2 separate regions of the Homo sapiens genome follow, and region 1 is linked to region 2. Evidence: fine-mapped expression QTL. Tissue or cell type: whole blood. Region 2 holds a variant in brackets; the other region holds the start of a gene. All regions are shown on one strand. Distances are from middle to middle.

What was found. PIP is the estimated chance that this variant, and not a neighbour inherited with it, causes the effect.
Region 1: TBXAS1 starts here. The variant in region 2 is fine-mapped to the expression of TBXAS1 in whole blood (INTERVAL, PIP 0.97).

The regions. Positions count from the first base shown.
Region 1 is chr7:139,828,233-139,830,835 of GRCh38, reverse strand. TBXAS1 (thromboxane A synthase 1) reads right to left here and starts at 1,572. Exons shown (of 13, transcript NM_001061.7): 1 at 1,357-1,572. The coding sequence starts at 1,445. RefSeq lists an enhancer at 700-1,899.
Region 2 is chr7:139,960,702-139,963,457 of GRCh38, reverse strand. It overlaps TBXAS1 (thromboxane A synthase 1), which reads right to left. Exons shown (of 13, transcript NM_001061.7): 9 at 1,225-1,539. Among named protein-coding and RNA genes, the nearest start is that of PARP12, 100 kb to the left of the region's middle. The variant A/G (reference allele first, on the strand shown) is at 1,185.

The DNA.
Region 1 (2,603 bases), 130 kb after region 2:
GAGATTAATATGAATAAGCACATTAGTAAGAAATTAAAAATAAACCTAAACCACTAAAGACTTATTTTCTTTTAGGTTACATAGATGATAGATGGTTAATTATAGTGGCTGACATCGACTAAGCACTTTCTGCATGTCAGACACTGTGCTTCGGGCTTCCCGGAGCATAAAAACACATTGAGATGGATTATTGGGGGCTGGGGGTAGGGAAGGAGCTACCATTTGCTCTTGGTTTTACATGTGGCCAGTTTCAATCCAAGGTAAGCTACAATGAGATAAAAAAGTTCAAAAAAAAAATTAAACCAGTTAAAAAGAAAAACAGCACTGGGACTGAGGCTGGGTTTCAGAGCCAATTTCCAAGAAGTAATTTCATCATCATAGAACATCAAACGTGAATTCCACTCTCAGCTATGCAAATTCCAAAAGAATAATACCTCACATTTGCATAATGCTTGATGCTTTTCAAAGTGCTTTCCCAGTTATTAATCTAGAGAAGGCTTTATTACTACTGAAAACATAAATTAAAATTCTGTTCGGACTCCAGTCCTCCATTATTTTTTCCACTCACTTTGCCCTCAAAAGCCAGAGCCATCTAAATCCAGGTGCTTTTGATTGAATGGGTAACTCTAATAAGTTTAACTGACAGGGCGAATATGCATAAATGTAGCATATTATGAGGCCTTCGACCTACAGACACCAGAGTCAGCCTTAGGAAAATTTGCTGTTGAATTAACAAAACCACAGGGGAGCAACTCGGAGTTCAAGTTTGAGATCCTTTCAGGGTCTCAAATTTTGTAGGAGCTGCACACACTATGTTCATCAGAATCCATCTCCCTCTATCAACTATGAGAAATTAGATCTACCACTTTGTCCTTAACCCTACAGAAATCCCCCTCAATGACTTCCTGCAAAGAGGCCCACATTTGCCAAACAGCTCCTACGTCTTGTTTTGTTTTGAATGTAATATGAACCAAGAGGCTGAATTCACTGTAAATCCAACAAGGACAGAGGATTTTAGAAAAATGAGGTGAGGAGATATGACGGGGTTCAAGGAAATGCTTCTACCCAAACCTAATGCCTTTCCAATTTGTTTCTTTTTCCATCTCTTTCAAACTTAATTATGTGTAGCGTTCTCAGTCACTGAATCACCAGCCTTTCCTGACACTTCAATCTCATGCATTTTAGCAAAAGATTAACCTGGCTGTTTGCTTTTAATTCTGAAGCTGTGTTAATACTCACTCCCGCTAGATTAGAAAAGAAGAAAAACACACTCCCACATACCCCGCCATGGCACCAGCAAGGCTCCAGGGTGAGACGGCTGACGCTGTCACAGTCCCTAGGGCTGGCTGCACTTACCATTTCAGGAGGGCCAAGAGAGCCACTGACAGGGCCACCGTCACCATGGGGCCATTCACTTCCAATTTTAGAAACCCCAAGGCTTCCATCATTCCTCTGAGACCCCAGAGTGGTGGTCTTCCAGATGAGACAGGAGGCTGATCTCGCCGCCCTTATGGGAACCGTGCTCTGCAGGTAGAAAAGGGAACAGGCAACCAAGCAAACATCACATGGAGTGGGCCCCCACAATGTGCTCTTTCTCAGAGTGTCTCCCTATAAAGAGGAAGGAAGAGGAGGGCACAACAAAGGGTTTCAGTGTAAAGGAATGAATCAGCAACTTTATTCCTTGATGACTGCACTGTCAATAAACATTTATATTAACTTCCTCAGAGAAGAAAAGCAAACTTCCCCATGTTTGCTGAGAAACAAAATGGTTGTAACCACGGACTTGTACTCTGAGAGGAAGTCTTCAAAGAGAGACTCTTCTCCAAAATGTCTATCTATATCTATCTCTATGTCTATATCTATATCTATATCTACATCCATCTATAATTTTTTAAATTCACAATTAAGTGAAGATACATGTCAAGAGATTCTGAATATCCCAGAAAAATACAGGACCAGACGCCAGCCTGATCAAAATGCTGGCTGCTTTGAGGACAACCATCCCACCAAGTCCATTAGTTGCTGGGTCTGAGGACCTGTCTGAGTGTCTGGCTGTTGGAGCAAAGCAAAGATCCCGATTGGGGTCAGTGTTCTCATGGTGAGTTGGAGGGCTTCTCAAGTGTTTGAAGGCAGATCCGTAGGCTCATATATGGGTCCTTTGTTCTAGCTTTGAGCTTATCTGACTAAAGTGGACAGAGAGATGGAGGGGATCATAGTGGCTGGGTGGCAGGACTAGATTGCAGCTTCAGACAGAGCAGCATCTGGAGGCTTCCATGGTGAATTTTAGCTCCAGATCAACTGCAAGAAAAAACCAGCAATCCCAAAAGGACCCACAGACTCTCTGAAGGAACCAGACTGCTCCTGCAGGACCCAGAAGACACTCCAAATACTGTGAGTGCCCCATTTGCGGAAGTGGGAAAGGGAGACCCTCCTCTCCCAACACAATCCCCCAATATTGAATGGGAGAAATATTCAATGAAATAGCTTAAAGAAAAAATAATTGAAAATTCAGGAAACTTTGGACACACTTTTAGAAATGTGAAATGCTCTGGAAAGTCTCAGCAATAGAATTGAACAAGTAGAAGAAAGAAAATCAGAGCTCA
Region 2 (2,756 bases):
TGTCCTGTTCAACATTTTAATCAATGACTTGGATGAAATAGGAGACATGCTTAATAAGTCTCAGATGACACGAGGCTGGAGGAATTGCTAATATAACAGATGGCAGAATCAAGATTCAAAATTATTTTGACTGACTTGAACAGTAATAAGGATAAATATAAACTCTTCCGTCTAGGCTCAATAAATCAATTGTGTAAGCAGGGTTTGGAAAGGCCCAGCTTGGCAGTTGTCATAACTACTTAGAACTTGAAGTTGACCATAAACTCATGTTGAGCCTAAAGTTAAGACAATTAATTAGTAACACAGTGAATGCAGTTTTCAAATATTTAAAAACTGCTGTGAAGAAGAGACATTGACTTTGCCTTTACTTCCCCAGTAGAATAAAGAAGTAGAATTTCCCGGGAAGTGGTTTTCAGTTCATTGTATGAAACATTTTTTAATGGTTCCAGTAACAGAACAGACCACCTTTCAAAATGGTGAATGTAATAGCAATCATATCAGAATGTAACAGAAAGGATTCCACTGTGGTGGTCTTCCTTTTAAAGTACAGATTTTAAAAATGAATCTCTTTGACAACTCATGAGTCAAAGTTATACACACACAAGCATCTAGAAGAAAAAATGAGGTGATAAAGTAGCCTTGCTCAGCACCCTCGTTATATCTGCTATAAACGATCAAGAGGGGCCTCATCTAGAAGAAAATGCCCTGAAGCTGGCCTGGGCGCTGACGGGCCCCATCTTCCCTTATTCCATTTGTGAGCCTCCTCCTCAGCTTCCAGTCTTCAGTCCAGCTTCAGCTTGGCCTGTCCTTTTGTCCACTCCTGCCTTCTATCTTGGCTCTCCTTTCTGGCTCACACCTGCCTCCCTCCGTGTGGCAGCTCCAAGTCAGATATTGGGAAGCCATGACTCCTTCCCCATCCCTGCCCTTTGGGCCTGACACCTTCCTGGGCTTCCACAGCTTCCTCGAGCCAGGCCTGGCTTCATGGACTACCCCAGACAGTGAAGGTGCACACACAATTTGTCTTTTTGTTGTGGTTATTGTTCTCAACATTTCATTTCGCTTGCTAACCCGGAGAGCAGGAGAAGCCAAGCAATGACCCTATTTCATCTTATAAGCTTAGAATGTGATATTAGCAAGTCATTAAAAATAAGTTTCACTCCCACAAACACAAAATCAATTGTCCT[A/G]TGGATATCCCATGGGTAACTGGATCCAACTTGTACTCACGTGTTTCTCCTTAAAAACGTCTACCTCTCTCAGAAGCTTCTCTTGGCAGTCAGGGTTGGTGGCCAGTAGGTAGGTGGCAAAAGAAAGTGTGTTGGTGATGATTTCATAGCCAGCGATGAGGAAGATGAAGGCCTGGCCCACAATCTCATCCACAGTCAAAGGCCTGGCCATAGGGCTGGGCTGGTGTTGCCGGGAAGGGTTCGGCTTGCACCCAGTAGAGGAGAAAACGTCTCTGACGATGTCAAAGTCTTGCACGCCCATGGGACTTGCAGAATGTCGGGCATCCAGGACCATTTGGAGGAAGTCTCTCCGCCTCTAAGGAACAAAAGGAGAAAAATGCACATTTTGACCTTACAGTCATGAAGAGTGAGGCTTCCTGGAGAACAAAGGAGGAAGATACATGGGCATAGCTTTTGAAGAGCTCAGTAGCAACAAGCTTCCTCATTGCTGGGTTATCTGGGACGGTGAGAACCTGGAAGCCACCTGAATGTCCCTTAGTATAGCACTGGTCAGGCAGGTTCTGGGGCAGTGAAGAGCAGCCTGGGCTGCTGCCCTGAGCAAGGCAGAGGCCATTCTATCTGGGCTGATGTGAAAGTCATTGAGCCACTTTGTTAAGTAAAAACAAAGCCGGTCATGGAACAGTATGCACTGTGGCTCTCGTTTCTGCAAAAACAGCAAATGTACTAAATATATCATCACCTATATCTGTCTACACATAGACGATTTTAGCAATGTCCCCACCCAACAGTTCATAATGAGCTGGAGGAGGTGGGAAAACCAGGAGGGGGGCTTTTATTTTTTACTTTATACATTTTTGTACTGTTGGTTGGTGGTTGGTTTTCCAACAATAAAACAATGGCAACATCACATAGATAGATTTAAAACCAAGCATGTGCTGTACTGCTCACTTCTGTGCAGCTTAGGGCTTAGATGGGCAGCCACCAGTTTTTCTCACACAGTAGGAAGTTAACAGAAGTGAGGGCAAGGCGAGGGGACTAGTTTGGCGGCGCCTGTCTTCAAAGTCTCCAGGCTTTGCCTTCTTCATCCCCTAGCCTTCATATCAGATCTTCACATCGGTTCCCTCTATTTCTCAGTAATCCCCTGCCCCCGTTTAAGTAGTCAGAGCTTTTTTTCCATTTCCCCCTACCTTCTTTATCAGTCATTTGCATATTCTTTATATTTTCACTATTACTAATTGTAACAATAGGAGTGTTTCTATATCGCCTCTGTGTTAACAAAGCTTATTCCTAGAACATCCCTTCTTTGAAATGCTCTTTAATGTCATGAAGGACAACCAAGACATTTCCATTTTCTGAAGTTTATGGGACTAAAATGGCAAAAGGAGAGTATCAGAATCACCAACAGAAAAATATTAGAATTTCATGCAAAGTACTCTGCTAGCTGCAGCATTTTCTCAGTTCACTGGCTTCTGAATTTCGATTGCATTAATAATCTATGCCACACACATGAGCGTCTGATTTCATCTTTTTTTTTTTTTTTTGCTCTGTCACCCAGGCTGGAGTACAATGGTG